Linked DNA regions of Homo sapiens. The protein of the gene in region 5 purifies or fractionates together with the protein of the main gene of each other region. This does not show direct contact. Each region holds a gene or a part of one and is shown on either strand. Other genes may lie near its edges. The genes, in order: SRPX, BTBD9, SMTN, GFPT2 and KCTD13.

Region 1 (4,958 bases), on a different chromosome or scaffold from region 5:
TAACTAACAAACAACATTGTACTGTACTGAAAGTGTTATCAATGAAGAAAATGCCAGAGGAAAATGACCTGCTCTCCCCAGCATATTTCCTTTTCATTGCAGAGTACTTTTGTCAGCTGATTACATGTTTTAAATCTAAATAGGAATTCCTAGCCTGTTCCCGGTGACACCTTAATTATATAACCTGAGCTAGGTGCTCCATTCCTAGTACTTATCTCCAAATGTGGTATTTCAAAAGACTGCTTCAGCTGATGTAGTCTGGTTTGGCTTTTAGCAAACCTCACTTGGTTTTCCTGACTAGTAAAACCACGCTACTTTACCAGTTTTCTCCAGATGTAAGATTCACGAAGCCTTTCTTAGAGGCCATGGTACTCATTCTCCATCTTCAGCCTTGTTTGCAGAAGGAGGCAGAGTGAACCACCACTATCTCACATGCAAATACAGCTCTAAGAATTATTTTAAGAACAGAATCTAAATTCTCATCTGTTATAAGCATACAAACACAGTCAAACACAAACAACTTTTCTACAAATTTTCCATACACTTCATGTAGGTTTTTATAGACACTGCATCTTTGCTAGGCTGCAAAAAATAGATCAGAGAGCCAGAAAAGCTGCATTAAATTCTAAGATGGAAGAACTCCAGAGACCTTCTAGGAGTGGGAATGAGAATGATTTACTCTCACTCTGACAGATGTGCTATTCACGTGCAGATAGTTACATAATCGACTTGCTGATGGAGCCCTAGATCTCCATCTTCTTTCAGAAGTTCCAGATTCAAGTCCTTCACTTTCTCTCTTACTGAAGATATGATGTCCACTTGCTAAGAGAGTGTCTCTGAAATGATCTTTAAAATTTGTCACCCAGCACTTAGAGTGAACTCAGCCTATGTGATTTGCTTTCAGACCCAAGGGCCTAGAGATTTTCCCCTCCCCAGCCTTCCAAAGCCTCTGGCTTGGACTGAAATCCCCTCCTCTGGATCTCACAACCTCAGCGGAGCACACTTCCCAAGAGACCCCATTGAGCCATGCCAAAAGGAGGCTCAAGAGGAGTGTTTATCAAGCAGCTCCAATCAGCTTCAGCTCATTTGTGGTCTGAGCAGAGCCGGAGGGCAGGTTAGGAGTCAGTGGAGGTGGTGGCAAGCAGGAACATGGTGGCTAAAAGTTGGGAGCAGCTTGCAGGCTGGCAGAGGGAGCCAGGAAAGCCAGGGATAGGTCCCAAAAGACAGGTGGTAGTGAATGCCCAAACTGGCGAACTCATGATTCTGTGGCTGGGCCCTGGTAGCAAGCTGTACTATATAAAGGTGGAAGATGAGAGAAAGGAGAGGGGAGGGCAGGGGAGGAGAACGGAGGGAGGTCGGATGGAAAAGGAGAAGGGGTCCCCAGCTTGAGAAAGGCTCAACTAAAAGTTGAGGTTCCCAGGCAGCTCACAGGCACCTCCCAACTCAGTGCGGAAAAGCTACCTCTAGCTTCTCACCTTATTTGCCCGCTCCCAGAAAGCTGCTTCTGGGACGCTTAATGACTTCCTCTTCCCCTACAGGTTCATTTTAACCTGATTCCTGCTAAAGGGGGTGGGAGAGGAGGTATTAACACACCATGGGAATAACAGTTGCCTGGCAGTAAGGATAAAATTTCCTTTCCACTTTACCCTGAATCAGTTCCTACAAAGCAGCTTAAAACTTAAGAGTCAGCTCAAAACACAAATGTTCCTGTTTATTAATTTACAAATTTGTTCTATTCATTCATTTATTTAGGTGCGTGCAGAGAATTTCCCGCAGCCATCCCTACATCTCCCAAGCACACTGCTAGAAAGATGGGCATCCTCTATCCTTCTACCAGAACTCAGTAGGTTCATTTCTCATACCCTAGATTTAAGCTGCCCACGGTGTTGAACGCAGAGCCAAATATTTGCACGCCCTATAGCCGACGTCACCCACTTTCCCATTAACACTAAATTAAAACGCATCCATGGATTTCCTCTCCATTCCGAGGCAACAGGAGTGCATGGCACATTGCCCTACTCCCCTGAAGCTCTTCGCTAACCTAAGACTCCAGGGTGAGGAAGTTAGCTGGAGCTTTTTAAAGTGCATCTCCAAAGAGAATTTTGCTCACACCATGAGAGCCCCCAAGAAACACCAGGGCCCCCTTAGATGCCGGAGACCACGCCCTCCAGGAATAAGCCGCACCCTCTGCCCAGCAGATCCTTGCGCGAGTAGCCCTCTTTCCCTGGGGCTAATCAAGTGCATGCCACATGTCACCACTCTCAGCTGGCAATTCTTCCTCAGAGGCGCAGACTTTCTCGGAATCCCCAGCAGGGGGGGTTAAGAGATTCAGGGGAGGCCCCGCCCGTGCCTTCCACAAAAGTCGCTTTACCGTGGCTCGTGTCCTGCGGCCCCAAGGGGGTAGCCTGGGACGTGTAGTGGGAGGGCATAGAGGCTCCTTCCAGGACAAGCTGCCAGCCTCCAGTGGGCAACCATGTGAGAGGCAAAATTCTGGGGGTGAGAAAGTAGCAAACTAGTCTGCGGCCAAACTTTCTCTGTGGAGCCTCCTACACCGAAAAGGGTTTGATTGGAACTCTGGAAGCCCGGACGCAGAAGGTGCTAGGGCTCCCGTCGCCGCGAGGGCGCCCCGCGCCTGGAGATGGGATGGTCAGTTCTTCCCGGCGCGTGCCCAGACACCAGCCCCGATCCGCATCATCCCCACCCTCGGGCTGCGAAAGAGGAGTTCTGCGCAAACAAAGGGCGCCCCCGGCACCTCCCTCTATCCCGAGCGAAGGGTCCCAACGGCGACTCCGGGGGTCTTTGGTGCCCAGCTGAGGAGGCAGCCACGCCTCCGATCCTACCTGGGAAGCTGCGGCTGGGCGGGACGCGCAGCAGCAGCAGCAGCAGCAGAGGCGGCAGCAGCAGCAGCAGCGCGGGCCGATGTGCGGGGCTCCCCATGGCGAGCGGGCGCTTAGCTCGCCTCGGCAGCGCAGCGCGCTTCCCGGGGGCGGCAGGAGACCGAAGAGACCAAGGGACTGCGTGCTAGCGGGCGGGCGAAGGCCGGGCTGGAAAACTCCTCCTCTCGCCTCTTTCCCTCCCTCCTTCCTGCCTGGGGCCTGCCCTCCTTTCTCCGCCCCCCCTGGAACACTGCGCGGTTCGGGGCTCTGACCCACCCACCTCCTCCTTTTGTGCCAGCGCTTTTTCTGGCCAGAGAGCGCTGGAGACAAGCCCCAGCAGAGCGAAATATCCTGAAGTAGCTTTCTTTGCCCCAATTTGCGCGCCCCCTCACCCGGAATACACACACGGTATTCAATACAACCGCCTCGAACATCCCAGACGTCTAGAAGGATACCATCTGTGCAGAAAGCTGCGTGAGTCACACGGAAACAGAAGGGGCAACCGAGGGGATTCAGAGTGGCCCACTGCGGCCGGATACTATGGCCATGTTCTCTGTTTTGATCCTCACGACCATGCCCCAAGTTCGCTATTACCATGTCCACTTTCTCCAATAAGACACCGACGCTTAGAAACTTGCCCAGATTCACCCCCGTTACTGGCAGAGCAGGGACTGGAACTTAGGTGTGTAGTTCTGCCGACGTCAAAGTCCATACTACAGATTTTTTGTTAGTTTGTTTCTCTTTTGCAAAGGAATAAATCAAGGACTGGACCGGGTGCGTGCCTGCTCTGCTGCGGTTTAGGATGGGGCTTGAGGTTCTCCTTCCAGGATCAGCTGATGGGAGAGCACAAGGCACAGAAAGTTCTCTGTCTCACCCACAGCCATGGGGATCCAGCTGTAGGTTCCTGCAGCCAGATTTCCTCATTTCCTGGGTTGTTCTCAACCACCCCAAAGATACCACGACCAGACTGGAGCCTCTTCCCTGTGGCTTGGCATCGCTGGATCCTGGCATCAGGACAGGGTTTCTAGGCTGCCCGCAGGACGGATCTGGTTTCTTTGAGGCATTTGAGTAAGCCTCTCATAGTTTTGTTTGTTTGTTTGTTGTTTTGGTTGTTTAGTTCTTGTTAAATCAGTAAGGCAATACGTTGCCCCTTTGCTGTCTCAGAAAGATCTTAGCTAAGGCAAATTTTAGTTGGAGTTGCTGCATTAGGTTGTGCAGTTTGGGCACTGTACAAAGGCATCCAGAGGAAGGGGCAAGTGGGAGCCAAAATCCAAATGCCTTTGGGTTCAGGGAGCTTTGCGTCTTGGCAGGGGCCACATCCACTAGAAGGGCATCTTTCTCTCTGCCACAGTAGTCTGGTCTGATAGCTAGGCTAAGAGCCCTGGGGGCACTCACCTAGAAGTTCTGAATTTGTTTATCCAGAAGGAGTGCCATTTCCCAATTCTCACAAAAGCCCCAGACTTGAACGTCCATCTTACCCTCTCTAGCACTTGGGGGGACTTCGCTCCATCTCCTGTGGGTTTCTCCACTGCTGCTACCTCTTCAGGGAACCAACAACCCTTAAATAACCCCCTAGTCGCAAGGAAATGGGGGAGGTCAGTCTATTCTGTGGCCTCCATCAGACCAGACTTTCCAGGGAGTCATTCTCAACCTTGTTTATGTGGGTCACCTGGGGAGCTTCATGAAAATACCATATCCAGGCTCTACCTCACACTAATAAAATCAGAATCTTTAGGAATGTGACCTGGAGTTTGACCAGATGCATATTTTTGTCTCTCCCCAATCCGCTAAGCTCCACGGTATAAGTTTTAGTATAGGATAAAAATTCTAGACCAGGAGTTTCTCAACTTGGGCACTATTGATATTTGGGGCTAGATGATTCTTTCTTGGGGAGGGGGACTGCCTTGCACGTTGAGAGATGCATCGATGGCCTCTATGCAACAGATACCACTAGCAATCCCCCTTTCCCCAGTTATGGCAGCCAAAAAAATGTCTCCAGACATTGCCAAATGTCCCCCAGGGGAAAAATGCCCCCAATAGAGAACTACTTCTTTAGGTCTGTAAACAAGGGTTAATGTGCAC
Region 2 (4,790 bases), on a different chromosome or scaffold from region 5:
ACATCTAAAAATGTCTCCAAAATCTATCCATTCCCATTGTCCAACATTTCTCACCTACACTCTAGTCTCCCTGCCTCTCTACTCTAATGCAATCTGCACACGAACTGTCAACTTTCTGATTATTCTACCTTCTATGGCTCTCCACTGCCAATGGATGGGAGGAGTCTAGACTTTTTAGGATGAAGTGGAAGACCCCCTCATAATTTGGCTCCAAAAACAGCTTCCTGCCTCATCACTTCCCCCATGCAATAAGAAGTGATTAGGCCCTCATGAATGGATGAATGCCATTATAGCAGGAATGGGTTCATTATCTCAGGAATGGGTTCTTGAGATGAGTTCAGCCCTCTCCCCTCTCTTGCCCACAAGAAACAACTCAAGATATTTCCAAAAGCGCTATTTAATTTTAATATTCAGCAACTTTGCTTATGCTGGCCCCTGGAATGCTCTCTTCCACCTCTACATGTGGCGAAATTTTATTTAACCCTCAGAGCTAAGCTCCATCCCCTTCTTCTCAACATGTTCCCTATCAGTTTTTTCTCCAGCCAAAGCACTCTACTCCCCCAGCACATTATTCATTCCAAAAGTGATTAATTTGTCACAGCACATAATGGTTAGTGGTTTATCTCTTCTGATGAACACTTAGTATGCTGAGCATATACTGTGTCTTAACTTCTTTGTCTTCCCAGCACCCAACGAAGTGTCTCGCCATAGCCAGCACCCAGTAAGTATCTGCTGAGTTGTTAAATAATGCAACATTTGCAGTTGTAACTTTACACATCTTGGTTAGCAATTCAACTTCAGGTTTACATACCACTCAAAAGAATTTTCACATAACAGAAGATGTTATAAATAAAGACCAAGGGTTCAATATTCAGCAGCAGGGTCTTTAATTATTCTGAAATCTCTTTGGTCAGTATTTTTAAGCATCGTTCATCAGAAAGACTCCTTTCCCAACTAACATTTGTATATTTTACAGGATCAGCAGTAAAGACAAACCTCAGAGAGATAATCCCAAGCAAAACTATGTCACTGAGTGTGACTGGATGACTATTGGTACATCATTTCAGTAAATTTCCAATACAATGGCCCAAGTACATCAGGTAGATTTTAGATAATGAGACATGCACCACTGACTACCTAAAATACATGCACATTAGTGAGGCATCGATTCCAATTAGTAATTGAAATCAAAAGTATATTAACAACCTGATATTGGTTCAAGCGTAATATCCTTTACTTTCAAGTAAGGATAACACTTATTCTTGTCAAAGACTGTACTCTGATTAATACAACCTCTATCCCACCTTACAAGAAGGCTGTATCTTGTTAACAGTGGGATGCTGATAAGCCCGCCTTAATCCTTAACACTTTGCCTTCCCAACCTGCTAAGCCATCTCTCTCCAGTATTCCCCTATAAGAGACGTTCCGCTCCAGTTACCAGACATAAAAGTCGTCTTGGTATATCCTCCAACAACCAAATTCACATTATTATTTTCTCAGCTCCTGGTTTATTTCCTAACAAATTTTAACTTCTTTCAGAGACCAAGTCAAATCTTGCCTCTTTCAAAGAGTTCCCTAACTCAGCCTACACATCCTATCTTTTCTGATTTTCTACCACATTTATAGTCCTCAAACAGCACTGGTTACCTGCTACTTAACTTGGTTTTATAATTATTTTATACATCTCCTAGCTAGACTACTGCTCTCAAAGGGAAAAAAAAGACAGGTCTTCTATGTCATTTTTCACTCCATAATCCTCCTCCCACACCTATCATGATACTGGGCAGAGGGAGGCACATGTATTAAGTACTTGATGGACTGAACTCAATGCTTTCTATACATAGATACACCACTTGAGCATAGTGTGCTATATAACAAATATCCATTGCATGCCTACTCTGTGGCAAGCACATTTTTCCTATGTGTTAGACATAGGGCAAGGAGGAAAACACAGATGACTCCTGTCCTAAAAGCTATTACAGTGGAGGGAGGAAGACACTTTGAATTCCGAGTAATCTAATAAGTGTTACAAAGCAAGGTTATTACTGGTTCCAAGAGGTAACATACTTTACAGATTCTCAGTTATGAAACAGAATCATAGAATTTTAGACCTAAATGAGAACCTTGAACTTATTTTCCTCTATCCTCTTACACAAAACATTAGATTTCAGTACAGCCTATCTTTTCACTGGTTCTACAAATTGCCTTAATCAACAGAAAGAAAAGACTGGCTTCTTCCCTGTCTCCAATATTCCTCGCTCCCAAGTATGGTAACCACAACCCCTATACATCTACCCATGATAGAGTCCAGAGCACTGAGAAGACAGCACAGGGCTGAGGATGAGCTACACCTTTACATGCTGGGTTCTCCCATCATCAACACTTTCCGCCCACACAGTGAACAGAATCCGTATTTTCTGCCCAGAAAATAGCAGCCTGTACTGCCTTTAGGAAAAACAAACAAAACATGCTTCCATACTTCCTTGGATCTACTAATGACAAAAGCACAACACGGTTCTGGGAAATATAGCAAGATAACTAAGTCTATGAGGAAGTAAGAAATGAGGATGCCTATCAGCACCTTGGTCTCAAAATCTGTAACAACAATGTACTAAAACGCCAAGGAAACACATGCACATACATGTGAAGTTAGAAACTCTAGGCAACAGGTTGGCTGCCCCGGATCTATACTGACAGGTCGCCCTCCCAAGGTCGTGGGTGTGTCTGATGCCGCACGCAGGCACTGATTCACAACTCTCTCCATAACAACCAGCTCCTACTCAGAGGCTGGCCAGGGCAGGGGAGATGAGGGCCCCAGCAGTCCCAAACTTTCCAAACCCCCACCCCGGGGTCCCGGGTTTCGCCTCCTCAGTCCCAGGCAACGTCGTCTCAGACAGGATACGAGACTGCTAGGGAACCTGGGCTGCCCCTGATTCGAACTCCTCTCTTTGGGAGGCTGGTAGAGCCACCCCGAATCCCCGAAACGTCTACTTCCCACTACACCTTCGTGGACTGCGAACGGGACGGCTACCGCTCTCCCAGAGCACCCGGGCCCAAGAAATGACCCTCGTCAGGCCCCGTCCCAGCTCCTCCCCCGCCCCCGGAAAAAGCGGCGGAGGGGCGGGGGGCGGTGCGCGCGGATACGGCGGGGGCGCGCGTCCCCGCGCCGCAGGTGCGGCCAGGCCCCACCTCCCCTGCAAGGACCCGGCTACTCACCCCAGCGATGCTCCTCTGAGACCAAGCTGCGACACAGACGCCTCTTCCGCCCGCTCCGCACCCCTCTCTGCGCCACCGCCCCCTTGGCCGCTTCCGTGGCCGCCGTCCTCGCCGCCGCCCCGGCTGCTGCGGCGCGCGTCCGCTTTCACGCACTCCGCCGTGGCCGCGCACGCGCCACTGCGCGCTGGCGTCACTTAGCAACCGATCGACAGCGGGCTGCTGGGTCCGGCGATGCAGGCCCAGAAAGTCGCCTAAGGCAGCTTCCGCGGCTTTTTCGCATCGGCCCGACCCTCTGCCCCTCCAGAACAGGGGGCCCCAGGGTGTGGCTGCCCTGCCGGCACCTGGCTCCGGGTAAGTCGAGTCACCACACGTCACTGTATGGCGTCACCGGCGCACGTCACTACGGATGAGAAGGTCCTGGGCGCCTGTGGAGTGACCTCGTCCAGACCGCCGCAGACCCGATCGGCAAGTTCTTGGAGGTGCAGGAAGGTTCTCCAAGGAGTAGGACCAGAAAGGGATGAGAGCGCGAGCGCGGTTAATGTCGAGGCTGCTAAGTGATGCTCGTTAATTTCGCAGCAGGGTGTGACTGGCCCAGCCTTGACTCTCAGTTTCCTCTCTCAGTAAATGGGCATAATAATACCGGTCCAGCCTACGCTGGAGAATTGTGAGGTGAAAATGAAATAAGGTATGCAAAGGTACTTTGTAAGTATAAAGCCCATTTGACTTGGTGGCTCAAGCCTGTAATCCCAGCACTTTGGGAGGCCGAGGTGGGCGGATCGCTTGAGCTCAGGAGTTCGACACCAGCCTGGGTAACATAGTGAAACCCCGTCTCTACAAAAAAGACAAAAACTAAATGGGCATGTTGGCGCGCGCCTGTAGTCACAAATGCTCGGGGGGCTGAGGTGGGAGGATCGCTTGAACCTGGGGAGTTCAAGATTGCAGTGAACCGTGATCGCGCCGCTGCACTCCAGCCTCTGCAGTGAGAGCAAGACACTGTCTCAAAAAAATGTATTTATCTATCTACATAGATAAGAGTCCTAGAAATCCGGGTGCAGGTCTGACTGTAGCTGGTGTAGGAAAGTCAGTTATCCCCGACGCTGGAGCAAGCTAGGGGACCGCCCTTGCAGTTGTTGGAGGAGACAAATTGGGAAGGACTTAATTCCGGGCAAAGGAAGCTTCATGAGTAAAAGTAGAAAGTGAAAATGGTCAGGAAAAGCAAGGCTTGGGGCAGGGAGACCCATTTTTAGGCCATTGCAGTACTCCAGACAAGTGATAAGAACATTAAACAAGGCATTGGCAGTGGGAATAGAGGAGGGGATAGATGTTAGCGCCATTAAGGTGGTAGAATTCACAGCACTGAGTGCGGATAAATGAGTAGGCCAGGTTTCTAGCATGAGTGCTGAGGTAGACAGTGGTAACATTTAGCAAGATGGCAAGCTACATGAGTCTTGATTATCCACAAGTGTCTAAGTTACTATTATAGATAGTGATGGTGACATTTCTTAGGAGGATGACCAGATATGTGGAGTATGATGATGAGTTCAAATATGGATATGTTTGTTAGGGAAACATTT
Region 3 (4,297 bases), on a different chromosome or scaffold from region 5:
TGGAGACACCCTGAGTCCTGGCCGCAGCACCTGTCCTGCATGCAGAAGTGCGGTTGCAGGCACTCATCCCCATTGGGGAGGCAGTGGGGGGCGCCTACCTGCCCTCTGGTTGCCTGTGGGCAGCAGCACCCGGCCTGTGGAGGCCTGGCCACGGCCGTCCTTGATCTCGATGGTGAATGTGGTCTTCATACTGCCCCCTGGCTCGGCAGTGCCGACGGCCACGGGCAGCGGGGCACCAGGCTCCTCTGAACGTGCCACAGGCCCCCCTGCTCTGTTTTCAAGGGGCCTAGCAGCCAAGCCCCGCCCCCTGGGGCCCTCCTCCTGGGGGCAGCTTCGAAGCTGGGCCAGGGGCTGGGCTACTCCTCGTTGCTCCTTGCTGAACCGGGAGGAGGTATCACTGGGGCCCCGAGAGGAGGAGCCGCTGGAGGAGGAGGCAGGGGTGGTGCTGGTGAGGGAGGGGCCCAGGAGCCTTGCGGGGGTCAGGGGACTTAGGGCAGCCTGGGGTGTGCCATCCTGGAGCCTAGCAGCCATAGGAGAATCAGATGTGAACTTGTGGACACGATCCCGCACAGAGCCAGCCCGCTGGAATGAGGAAGGTCCGCTGGCAAGGGGGGTGGACTCTAGAAGGAACAGGAGGGCTGTCAGCAACTGGGTGGGACAGGGTCTGCACAGATCCTAGGCAGGGTGAGAATAGGTAGTACCTCGGTTCTGGGCTGGTTGGCGGGGGCTGAGCACCGACAGGGAGCGTTGGCAGGGTCGGGGTCCAGCCACGTCTGGCAGGTTGGGGAGGGGGTGATGGCCATGTGGGGAAAGAGAAAAGACAGGGGATAGTGGGTGTCCACCTTTCATAATCCTCTCCTCTACACCTCCCTAGCTTCCCACCCTTTCCTGTACTCAACCCCCACCCCACCTCTCCATCCCCTCCTGGATCTCCCACACTCCGGCATCCCCACTCGGCTGCATCTCTCCTACAGGCACCTCCTTCTCCTGCCACACTGACCCTAGGATGACTTGGACACTCCTGGGGGCCAGGCGAGGCTTAGGCTGGAGGAAGGGTGCCCAGATCCTTTCTGCAGATGGGGAGGGGGGACAGCCCTCCTGGCCAGTGCTGCCCACAGCTCCAGCTGGGAGATGGGTGGACTCCCTTATTGGGGAGAAGAATGTGCCTGAGGCCCGTTGCCTTTCAAGGCTGCAGGGGAGGCCTCTAGCCATGGGGGTGGAGGGGGAGGCTGGCCTAGCTGGGGGCGGGGACACTTCAGGGGTGGGGTGCAGTATCAGGGACTGCATGGACCTGAGGAAGCTAGAGCTGCCAGGCACAAGAGCCCATTTTCTAGGCAGGGAAAGGGAGGCAGGGGGAGGGGAAGAAAGATGCCTGTGACTACCCCTGCTGGGACCCTCACCTGCTCTCTTGGTGTCAGAGGGGCCTCTGGTGGGGCTCTGGGCAGCAGGGGTCTCTTTGGGGCCAGACAGAAGCTGCAAGGGAGAAGAACAGGGCCTGAGCAAGGCCTGACTCCCAGACCTGCTCACTTGCCTGGCATCCCTGCCCCTCATCCAGACTCACCTTGTTGACCACCTGGCCCTCAGTGCTGGGGAGCGTTGGAGACTCCTGAGGCTCAGGGCTGGTGGTCTTGGGTGGGCTGGGGGGTGGCTCTGGGCTGCCTGGAACCTCAGCTGTAAGGCACTGGGCCTCGGCAGGCTCCAATGGAGGCTCAGGAGAGGCAGGGGTGGGTGAACTGCTGGGTGAGGCAGGTGAGCTGGATGTGCTCCCAGGTGGGGCTCGCAGCAGGAGTGTCACTGTGGTCACATCCTGGCTGGTGCCTTCAGGGGTGGGGGTTGGCTTTGAAACCTCTGCCTGCTGTTCCTGTTCCTCTCGCTCTGGCACCTGTAAGGGACCCACAGGATGCAACCAAGGCTCCCTAGGCTTTGAACGCCACCCCCACCACTGAGGGCCAGGCTGGCAAGTGCCCAGGGCAGGGCATGCAAAGCAGAGTGGTGGGGCATGGCTTCCTGTAGGCACACCTGCGCAAGCACTGGCACTGGCATGCTAAGGGCAGTCTCTGATCCCCACTTCCCAATCTCTTGGCACTACCTAGCCAAAGGGGTTCAGAGAGGACCAGGTCCTGATGTCAGTGGGTGGGTATGGCAGGAGACCTATTGGGGACGGGAGCCTTAATAGATCCCTGGAGTGGAGGTTCCTGACTCCTGGCCTCAGCCTGGTTCATCTGGAGTGGGAGTGGGGTCCTGCCAGGACCGTGGACCCAGCGGCCTCTGCTGGCCACTTGGGGAACCTGCATGGCCTGACCTCTCACCCACACTCTGGAAAATAGAGTGAACTGTGAGCCAGCTGGGGTCTGACATGCAGGCCCCATAAGCCAAGGTAAAGATGTGGGCTGTGTGGAGGGTGAGGGGCAGCCCTGGGACGGGTTGAAGCAGGGGAGGTGCCAGGGCCGGATTTGCATTTCTGGGAGATCCCTCTGACTGCTAAATAGAGGCTGGATGGCAGGGGTGGGCCCCTTACAGTGAAATACCAGCCTAGCAAAGACACTCAGGCACTCTGTGCTACCGGTATCCATGGGCACAGGACACTGGGCCACTCTCCCACCCTCCTTACCTCACACTGTTCCAGCCTGTGTGCCGCTAGCCCCTTGCTGTCCTCTCTTGAGCCACTGTTGGGACGCCCGCTGTACAACCTCCCAGCCAAGGTGGCAGCTGGAAGGGAAGGAGCAAGTGGCAGGTGAGTGACAGGGAGGTGCTGTGGACAGCAGACAGCAGGGCAGGGGTGGGGCCGGGACAGGCCACATACCCTCAATCTCCTGAGCCCGTACACGGCGGATGGCAGCTCGGATCAGCTTGCGCTCCTCATACTCACCAGCGCTTCGCAACTGTGGGTAAGAGACAGGTCGCGGGTGTTGGGCTGTGGAGTCCAGGTCTTCACCTGCCCTGCCCCCATCCCCTGCCCCAGCCTGGGCCTCACCAGTGCAGTCAATTCCTCCACATCGTTCATGGACTCCAGCTGCCCTGCCAGCCGTGCCAGGGCAGCCCGCTGCTCAGCTTCCCGCTGCTGAGAGCTGCAGAGACATCATGACTGTAACCACCACTGCCATGGCCAGGTCGTGGAGGATGTGGGCTAAGGGTAGGAGCCAGAACAGAGTACCCAGAACCTTGGCAGAAGGGCATGTGGCTGTGCACACCCTCTAACTGCACACTGATACACATATGCCCATGGACGTGGGCACTAATACCACACACTCAGACGTGCTGGCTACATCAGCACGGCCGCGACGCCACAATCAGTACATGCTCCATGCCCACAAACATCTCTGTTTTTCCAGAAGCGTGTGTGGACGTACTGCCATTAGCACATGCAATCCACAGATACACTTGTGCTCACGCCTGCCTGCACACATGAGCTGAGCCAGGGCTCACACTCACCTTCTCACCCGCATGTTCCACCCCCCGCTACTCACTGCAGCCAGTTCTCCTTGTTGTCCTGCCGCTCGGCACGGAAACGCTTGGATGCCAGGGCCTCCTCCTCGCGCTCCAGCTCCTGCCGCTGCAGTTCCCGGATGGCTGAGCGGATGCGCCGCCGCTCTGCCAGATCTGCTGTGACCTCCAGCTGCAGTGGGTGCGAGAGGCAGGTCATTTTGGCTGCCAGGGGCGGAGGGCTGGCACCAGCTGCCCACGGCTCTGCCTAGGGCACAATGTGTGGCCTGTGTCCACTCCCTGTGTCCCAAGCTCTTCACGTGCCTGCCTGCCCACGCAGGGTCCCGGGGGTAGACCCAGCCCACTGTTTCAGGGATCTTGGGTAGTCCACTTTGCATTGTGGTTCACAGAGCACACAACTGTGAGTGGACAGCCAGAAACTGCCCACTTGTGCCAGGTGCCAAGCCAGGCACTCCTTTCTACAACTCGATTCCTGCCTCTCAGAGCCCAGATCCCCAAAAGTCAGGGAGCTATTGTAGGAGGAGGAGGGAGGCCACCCTGTGGGTCACTAACAGGGTCCCTAGAGGGAAAGGTGACAGATGAAGTCCACCCTCTGAGCAAGGGAGGCTCCCTGGTCTAGTCACCAAACACCACAGCCCAGCTGGGGGTTGACTGCTTCATCCACAGATGGGGAAACTGAGGACAGGTGCTCAGGAGTCCTGCCTGGCTGAGGGCTATTGTCCCCACTGCACTGGCCTGGACCTAGCCACCATGGAAGAAGCCAGGGTGCAGAGTGGGAGGACCAATCCCCCAGACATATAAGGTGGCTGGCACTAGGGGCCACCCCAGGGCCTTATAGAGGGCATCCCTGGGT
Region 4 (4,297 bases), on a different chromosome or scaffold from region 5:
GCTTGCAGTGAGCCGAGCTCGCGCCACTGCACTCCAGCCTGGGCGACAGAGTGAGACTCCATCTCAGAAAAAAAAAAAGAAAGAAAAAGAAACAATATCACCATAGATATAAAAAAATGGAGAAGGGGATGGACGTGGAGCCAGTTAATATGGATCCAACATATGGGTAACTGGTGTGCACAAGAAGCGATCAGAGCACAGAGCAGTAAAAAATAAATAAATAAATACATAAAAAATAAAGCTGAGCTGTGGTCAGCACATCTGTTGAAACTGGGCTTTTCTTATTTAAGCCCTCCCATTTTTGGGTGTGACCTCACAAAAACAAACACTACAATTTTTTTAAATAGAGGAAATCATGGTGAGAATAAAGAAAAAGAATAATGGAAAAGATTTCAAAAGATGCTGTGGGAGAAATCTTTCCCGAACTGAAGGAAAACTTGAGTTGGATATCCAAAGAAGGGATCAAAAATAGTCAATAGACCAGGCACAGTGGCTCAAGCCTATAATCCCAGCACTTTGGGAGGCCAAGGTGGGTGGATCGCCTGAGGTCAGGAGTTCGAGACCAGCCTGGCTAACATGGTGAAACCCTGTCTCTACTAAAAAAATACAAAAATTAGCCGGGTGTGGTGGCGAGCACCTGCAATTCCAGCTACTTGGGAGGCTGAGGCAGGAGAATCGCTTGAACCCGGGAGGCAGCAGTCGTGGTGAGCCAAGGTCACGCCACTGCACTCCAGCCTGGGCAACAGAGTGAGATTCTGTCTCAAAATAATAATGGTAATAATAAAAACAAATAAGACTTCACAGTGATGCTTTGAAAAAAATAGTCAATATTTATGAAGCGTATCCCACATCTAGACACCTCCTGGTGGAATTATTGAACCTCAAGGGTAATAGGGAATCTTTCTGTCCTCTAGGGGGAGAGGGAAACGGAGCTACTTGCCCAGAAAAATTCTCAGGCTGGCCTTGGATCTTTCCCTCAAGGCACTCATATGCGGGCTATTCATTGAGAAAATGCAGTGGGGTGGAGGCAGACATCCCTCACCGCATCCCCCGCATCCCCCTGCTCCCCCCGCCCCCCCGCCACCTCCCCGCCAGGATCAGCGGGGTGCTACCTGTGCAGGAAGCCGCCCGCGTGAGCTGGGTTGTGCGGCAGGAACTGGGGAGGTGGGAAAAGCTGCAGCTGGCAGATCCTGCTGTGCAGGAATGTGGCTGAGCCTGGGGATGCCAGAACTTCTGGGATTTTTCCCCCAAGGAAACCAGGATTTTAAAGTGAACACTCAGAATTTTAAAAACTCAAATATTTTTACAACACAGTGTGGGTCAAACACAGCACGGTGCTGGACTGTTCTTTGCGACCTCTTTGTGCCTAAAGCCAGTTGAGAGTGCCTGGAATCACTTCTGGAACGAAGGGCTCATCATCCCCGTGGGACATGAACCCCAAAGCCTGTTTGATACTATAATAGCGCACAGGGGAGAGCTCTCTGCACGGTCAGGCTGGTGGCTGCTGGTCACTGAAAGAGGGATGTGTATTTCCTCCGGATCCCATTGTAGTAGCCGCTGCCCTAGACATCCCTGGTGCTAATCCCTGGTTCCACTGTAGTTGCTGCCGTAAACATCTGTGCTAATCACTGTAAACAAAGTGTGCTTAACAGAAGTCTTGAGGCCTGGAGTTTGCAGAGAGTTCTCAAGCCTTGAAATCATCTCTCTTCACATCTGACATGAACCTCCTTCTCAATAGCATTTCTCTCTTAACTTTTCTTTCAGAATTTGTTGTCATCCACAATGGGATCATCACAAATTACAAAGATCTGAGGAAATTTCTGGTAAGATGCTTCCCCTAGGTGATGTCTCAGTCCGGTGGGATTGGTCTCCCCAGAAACTTTCCAGCCAGCTCATTTCCTTGCGGAAACCAGTGTGGGAACTGAGTGAGACCCACACTCAGCCACGTCACCGTGTTGAGAAGAAACCTCTGCCTTGGCTGAGCCAGGCCCTGCAGATCTCGTTTGAGGAGATAACAGGGCATTAGTGTTTATCTCAAGGGCCACTGCAGATTCCCAGAATCAAAATAACAGGAGCTTCGTTTTATTAAACTGTCTGCATTATATAACACAGCGACTCGTATACCGGCGGAGTTGGGACGGAAAGTCAGACAGTGACTGTCTGAAGTTTGAAAGGCTCTGTGGTGTTAGTTGGGATGTGGGTGGGTTTGACTCAACGTATTTTATCATTTTGACTGCTGTTATTTTGCAATGTCCAGATTAGTGGCAAGGGTGAGCTTCTGAGGTGGGATGATCTCAGGGCCTCCGGGAGTGACTCAGAGGTATTTGGCTGTGATGCTGGCAAACATTTTTCCCCCCTTCCCGGTTTTCCCTGTTCTTGACTTAAGTCACTCCAAGGGCAGATCACCAGGGAGGAGAGGGAGTTGGCCAGGCAGGCATTGTGCAATGACCAATCTCTCACACTGTGCCGACTGCATATTCCAGGAAAGCAAAGGCTACGAGTTTGAGTCAGAAACAGATACAGAGACCATCGCCAAGCTGATTAAATATGTGTTCGACAACAGAGAAACTGAGGACATTACGTTTTCAACGTTGGTCGAGAGAGTCATTCAGCAGTTGGTGAGTTACAAATCCCATCTGTCTAACTCATTCCTTCATTCTTTCATTAAAAACATTTTTTTCAAGCAGCAAGTGCCAAGGAATCCTTCATTTTTTATAAGCCCTTGTTAGACAAACTTGCACAGAGTCCTGGGGATAAAAGACAGCCCATCTGCAGAGCCTGGCCTTAAGATGTTACACTCTTGTAGAACTGGAAGACGTTCTGTGGTTTGGGTAGTCAACATCAAATAGAAAGTGCCCTGCTTCATCGTGACACTTCTGAAATTGTGACTGGCATTAGAGTCCGTGGCTTTTTATGATGCACACGTGAGCTTGGTGGTGGTGTGCAGAGAGAGTTGTGGTACCAAGCGAGGATGTGTTTCTAGGTTTTTCTTTTTTGAGACAGAGTCTCACTCTGTTGCACAGGCTGGAGTGCAGTGGTGTGATCTTGGCTCACTGCAACCTCCACCTCCCAGGTTCAGGCAGTCCTCCTGCCTCAGCCTCCTGAGTTAGCTGAGACTACAGGCACGCACCACCACACCTGGCTAATTTTTGTACTTTTAGTAGAGACAGGGTTTCACTATGTTGACCAGGCTGGTCTCGAACTCCTGACTTTAAGTGATCCACCTGCCTTGGCCTCCCAAAATGCTGGGATTTACAGGCGTGAGCCACTGTGCCTGGCCTGTTTTTGTGATAGGTGATATCACAGCATGTCTGTATGTGGAACGGAATGGCCCAAAAGAGGGAGAGAGGGAGAGAGATTGGGGACATCCCAGAGGACAGGGCCCAGGGAGAAGAAGTCCCTGAGAAGGGAGCACACACTGGGCGTATTGTCCAAGGGGAGGCCCCTACACTGAGGAGGAGGTGGAGCAGACACAGGCCCATGCAGGGTGCGGGAGGACGAGAGGGGTCCGGGCCTCTCAGAGCCCATCCTGTCAGACAGCAGTGCCACCCAGTAGCTCCCCCAGGGCTGTGGCAGCCTGGACACTGGCCCAGAGTCCAGAACATCTGGCAGGCACCATCCTGTAGTGTAAAATACATCATTCTTGAGCAGGTGTTTTCAGAGTCTGATTTAAAAAGTAAGTCTACTGTTGAAGCCTTTTTGTCCTCTAACTCCCGTTTTTGGAGGTCCATCATTTAGAGGACGTGTTTATAAAAAACAGCCTATCCCACATTTAATGTGCTGGATAAGGTACAGTGAGCCAATTAGGTATTACAGCATGCTGTTTCTTCTTTTCCATTTTTATTTTGAAATTTCAGAAATACCTCTCTCATAATGACACTTTTAAACTTAAGACTTTTCCTACCTGGGACAGTACCGGGCTCTTTTTGGCAGAGAACGTGCAGTGTTTTTCCATTCAGTCCTATTTTATTGTTGACAAAAGCACCAGGGTCTGCCTGAAGCCCCCTGGTTTGGGGCAGTTTGAAAGCCCCAATGAGGCCTGGGGACGGTGACTCAGGTTCCTGGCCCTGTAGCTGAGTTGGCAACCTGGACCCGACACGCTGACCACCCGGGGCCTGGGGCTGCCCGTGGCTTCCACACTTGGAGGATTTCTTGTGGAAATTCAGATTTGCAGCTGGTTATATATAACTGAGCTCTGCTAGGGTTGCGGTAAGTTAGTACAGGATGGTCAGGACGTGGGGGAAGAATTTACACCAAGAATTTAAGTCAAAAAACCATCTGGCCTCTTGTGTTAGGA
Region 5 (4,297 bases):
CACTCTGTTGCCTAGGCTGGAGTGCAGTGGTGTGATCATGTATCCCTGCAGCCTCAACCTCCCGGGCTCAAGTGATCCTCCCACCTCAGCTTCCTGAGTACCTGGGTGTACCACTATGTCCAGTTAATTTTTTTTTATTTTTTGTAGAGATGGGGTCTTGCTGTGTTGCCCAGGCTGGCCTCAAACTCCTGGCCTTAATGGTCCCCTGCCTCAGCCTCCTAAAGTATTGGGATTACAGGTGTGAGCCATGCACTCTAATTATTGGTTTATCTTCCTATCTTCCCAATCAGAGGATGTTTCTTGGAAGCTGGGTCACTGATTCATTCATTCATTCATTCAATAAATGTTTCCTAGCTTCCACTGTGTGAAAAGGGCCCAGCTAATGGGAGATAGGAAAGAAAAAGACATGGCCCTGCCCTCAAGGAACTAACACCTCGCTGCTGATGCAAACCCCCTCCCCTCCACCACACATGATAAAACACTGTCTTTAGCTATGAAGGGAGTGTGACCAACTTTGGGGTTGCTGGATTGAAAGTTCATGAGTGAAGGTGACCCAAAGAAAGTGATGCTTAGCTTGAGTCTTAAGATTAAGTACAAGTTCATTAGGCAGATAGAAGGAAAGAATTCCAAGAGGCAACAGTGTGTGCAGAGGTAAGAGGTAAGAAATAGCACTGAGTGCTTAGAGACTTGTGATGACTGTGGTGTACCTGAGGCATGTGGCTCATAGTAAGCTCGGAAGGGACCAGATGAGGAAGGGCTTGTATTTTGCTCAGCACTTCATTCCCCTTGATTTCCAGCCCGGTACAGTACTTAGCACAGAGCAGGGGCTTGGGGAATATCTTGATGATTGCCACATTAATGACTCAGGATCTACAAACTCAGAGGATGTTCTAAGAGACATCTGATTCTGAGGTTTTAAGAATCTATTTTTGGCAATGGGCCTTTCTGAGTTTCCCTTTTTTTTTTTTTTAATTAGAGTTAGGGCTCACTCTGTCTCCTAGGATGGAGTGCAGTGGCATGATCATAGCTCCCTGCTGCCTCAAATTCCTGGGCTAGGGCGGGCCCGGTGGCTCACACCTATAATCCAAGCACTTTGGGAGGCCGAGGAGGGCAGATCACTTGAGGTCAGGGGTTCAATACCAGCCTGACCAACATGGCGAAGTCTCTACTAAAGAGACTTCTCTACTACATTTAGTCTCTACTAAAAAATACAAAAATTAGCCGGGCATGGAGGCGGGTGCCTGTAGTGCCAGCTACTTGGGAGGCTGAGGCAGGAGAATCACTTGAATCTGGGAGGCAGAGGTTAAGTGAGCTGAGATCACACCATTGCACTGCAGCTTGGGCAACAGAGTGAGACTCTGTCTAAAAAAAAAAAAAAAAAAATAGGCTGGGGGCAGTGGCTCACGCTTGTAATCCCAGCACTTTGGGAGGCTGAGGTGGGTGGATCACGAGGTCAAGAGATTGAGACCATCCTGGCCAACATGGTGAAACCCCGTTTCTACTAAAAATACAAAAATTAGCTGGGCATGGTGGCACGTGCCTGTAGTCCTAGCTACTGGGGAGGCTGAGGCAGAAGAATCGCTTGAACCTGGGAGGTAGAGGTTGCGGTGAGCGGAGATTGTGCCACTGCACTACAGCCTGGTGACACAACGAGACTCCATCTCAAATAATAATAATAATAATAATAAATAAATAAATTACTGGGCTCAAGCAATCCTCCTGCCTTAGCTTCCTGAGTAGCTGGGATTACAGGTGCATGCCATCATGTCACCAAGCCACCACACCTGGCTAAATTTTTTGACTTCTTACAGAGATCAGGTCCCACGATGTTGCCCAGGCTGGTCTCGAACTCCTGGGCTCAAGTGATCCTCCTGCCTTGGCCTCCCAGAGTCCTGGGGTTACAGGCGTAAGCCACTATGCCTCACCCCTTCTGAGTTTCTAATGGCAACTATGGACCCCCTATACAGAAAAATGCATACACCCCCATTTCAGGAGTTGCAAACAGCCTTGAAACCCATCCAACAGGCCTAGGCTAAGCACCCTGCTCTAACCCGTGACCCCCATTTCACAGAGAAACAGAGACCCACAGGGATAGGGTGGCTTGCCCACTGTTGTGCACCCCAGACCCCAGGATCTGGCTCCTGCCTCCTGGTGGTGGGCTCCTTCCCCTGCCAACCTGCTTTTGTCCAGGGTCCTGGTCCTGGCCACCCCCAGCCCCCAACATAGGCTCTGGAGCCCCTCTGACCTTGGTCTGCTTCTTCTCCGTAGCATAGACAATGGAGGTGCAGCACACCTCGGCGATTTTGCGGCCCTGCCCGTAGAAAGACCAGCAGCAGATCTCGTCCCCCAGGACATCCTTGAGGAAGAGTAGCCGCCCGTGGAAGCGCAGGGCCAGCTTGTCGAACAGCTCGATGTTCTTAAGTAGGTTGTCATCTGAAGTGCTGGGGACCAGGGGACCAGGAGGCCTCAGCGCAGTTGGCACCCCTCCCTCTGTACCCCCAGAAGACGGGCCTGGATGCATTCCCAGTCCTCTGCTCCTGCCCAGGGCTTTGGTGCTCAACAGAGAGCCTCCTCCACCCCTGGGGCCAGGCTAAACGGGTCTCAGAAGGGAAGCCACATGCGCTGAGCAAATCCCAGCACAGCACAGCACAGCAGCTCCAGTGAGGGACCGGGAGCCAGGCCACCTCCCCGGGGGTCCTGGTGTCCCCATTTTTTAACTGGGTGACACTAGGCAAGTTACTTCACCTCTTGGTGTCCCGACCTCCTCATCTGTAAAATGGAGCTCACAACAGTACTGACCTCAAGGGGGAGGACTCTGCCAGTTCCTAGAATGAGAGCACTTGGGATAGGCTCGCCACTATCACTTTGTCCTCACCCAAACCCATTTACTGATGACTGAGCTGAAGCTGAGAAGCAGAAAGGACCTGCCTAGAGCGTCAGGGGTAAGAGGCGAAGCCGAATCTGCGAGCAGGCACAGATGTTCTTGTAGGCCCCCCGTGTGGCCGTGGCCCTCGCCTTGGGCAGAAGCAGGGCTGTGCTGCATCCCAGGGTCCCGCCCAGTGCCCCGCACCCCGGCGGTCACCTGGTGTAGGAGTACTTGTTGTTACTGCGGTTGTGCAGGAGCTTCACCACGGGCTGGCGGGGGAGAGAGGATGGACGAGAGGGGTGAGGCTGCAGGGAGAGGCCCCCCCAGTGAGCCTCCACCCTGCAGGGCTTGGGGGCCTCACCTTGGAGGTGCTGGCCAGGAGCTGCTGCTCCTCCCGGGGAGATGTCACCATGGGGATGAGGCACAGCGGGGACAGCGTCTCCCTTTTTTGCTGGGGAAGAAGCGGAAGGTGGTTAACAGCACAACCAAAGGCCACGTACTCCCCCACTTAAAAGCCTTCAAAAGCTGGTTGGGAACAACTCCAGACTCCTCAGTGGTCCGCAGGGCTCTGCAGGCTCCAAGCTCCGCCAGCCTCTCTGCCACTCTCCCTTTGCTTGCTGGGCCTTGGTCCCACGGACACCTTGCTGCTTCACACATCCAGCTTGTGCCTGCCCCGGCCACTGGCTGTGCCCCTGCCCGGGATGCTTCTTTGCTCAGCTGTCAGCGTGGCGTGTCCGTCATGCCATTCAGATCGCAGGTCACACAGTGCCTCCTCAGGGCCAGCCCTCCCCAGCCCCCCTGGCTAAAACAGCCTCCTCTACATCCTGCCTTTTGTGTTATCAGTTTTCTTTTTCTTTTTTTGAGACAGAGTTTCGCTTGTTGCCCAGGCTGGAGTGCAATGGCGCCATCTCGGCTCACTGCAACCTCCACCTCCCGGGTTAAAGCAATTCTCCTGCCTCAGCCTCCTGAGTAGCTGGGATTACAGGCATGTGCCACCACACCCAGCTAATTTTGTATTTTTAGTAGAGACGAGGTTTCTCCATGTTGGTCAGGCTGGTCATGAACTCCCGAACTCAGGTGATCAGCCCGCCTCAGCCTCCCAAAGTGCTGGGATTACAGGCGTGAGCCACTGCACCAGGCCTATCAGTTCATTTTCTACACAGCAGTTAGTGTCTGACTTTTTCTAACTTTTTGTATTTGTTTATGATCTGTCTCTTCCCACCTAGGAATAACTACCTAGTATACAGCTGATGCTCTGTATTTGTTGAATGAATGAACATATTTGTTGAGTGAATGAACTTCATTGGGTGGGATGACGTTGGAGAAAGAAATCTGAAGCAAACCCATGGGCTTCTTTCTCTTCTGTCTTCTAGAATCTTCATGCCAAAATCCCTCTCACTTCTCCCAACCTTGAAAACTCAATGCGCAATT

The links.
Region 1: the proteins of KCTD13 (region 5) and SRPX purify together in Homo sapiens (affinity purification with mass spectrometry; one large-scale study listed by BioGRID and IntAct). This does not show direct contact.
Region 2: the proteins of KCTD13 (region 5) and BTBD9 purify together in Homo sapiens (affinity purification with mass spectrometry; one large-scale study listed by BioGRID and IntAct). This does not show direct contact.
Region 3: the proteins of KCTD13 (region 5) and SMTN purify together in Homo sapiens (co-immunoprecipitation; one large-scale study listed by IntAct). This does not show direct contact.
Region 4: the proteins of KCTD13 (region 5) and GFPT2 purify together in Homo sapiens (affinity purification with mass spectrometry; one large-scale study listed by BioGRID and IntAct). This does not show direct contact.

The regions. Positions count from the first base shown.
Region 1 is NC_000023.11:38,217,856-38,222,813, forward strand, and holds the start of SRPX (sushi repeat-containing protein SRPX isoform 1 precursor), read right to left. Parts: upstream 3,017-4,958; 5' UTR 2,938-3,016; coding exon 2,841-2,937; intron 1-2,840. UniProt on the Homo sapiens protein: May be involved in phagocytosis during disk shedding, cell adhesion to cells other than the pigment epithelium or signal transduction.
Region 2 is NC_000006.12:38,636,584-38,641,373, forward strand, and holds the start of BTBD9 (BTB/POZ domain-containing protein 9), read right to left. Parts: upstream 3,347-4,790; 5' UTR 3,217-3,346; intron 1-3,216.
Region 3 is NC_000022.11:31,087,284-31,091,580, reverse strand, and holds part of SMTN (smoothelin), read right to left. Parts: intron 3,617-4,297; coding exon 3,468-3,616; intron 3,128-3,467; exon of another isoform or gene 3,069-3,127; coding exon 2,975-3,068; intron 2,883-2,974; coding exon 2,804-2,882; intron 2,710-2,803; coding exon 2,612-2,709; intron 1,883-2,611; coding exon 1,562-1,882; intron 1,474-1,561; coding exon 1,401-1,473; intron 1,145-1,400; exon of another isoform or gene 1,001-1,144; intron 774-1,000; coding exon 702-773; intron 621-701; coding exon 99-620; intron 1-98. UniProt on the Homo sapiens protein: Structural protein of the cytoskeleton.
Region 4 is NC_000005.10:180,329,021-180,333,317, reverse strand, and holds part of GFPT2 (glutamine--fructose-6-phosphate aminotransferase [isomerizing] 2), read left to right. Parts: intron 1-1,764; coding exon 1,765-1,823; intron 1,824-2,483; coding exon 2,484-2,618; intron 2,619-4,297. UniProt on the Homo sapiens protein: Controls the flux of glucose into the hexosamine pathway. Most likely involved in regulating the availability of precursors for N- and O-linked glycosylation of proteins.
Region 5 is NC_000016.10:29,908,733-29,913,029, forward strand, and holds part of KCTD13 (BTB/POZ domain-containing adapter for CUL3-mediated RhoA degradation protein 1), read right to left. Parts: intron 3,318-4,297; coding exon 3,228-3,317; intron 3,136-3,227; coding exon 3,083-3,135; exon of another isoform or gene 2,929-3,082; intron 2,826-2,928; exon of another isoform or gene 2,442-2,825; coding exon 2,246-2,441; intron 1-2,245. UniProt on the Homo sapiens protein: Substrate-specific adapter of a BCR (BTB-CUL3-RBX1) E3 ubiquitin-protein ligase complex required for synaptic transmission.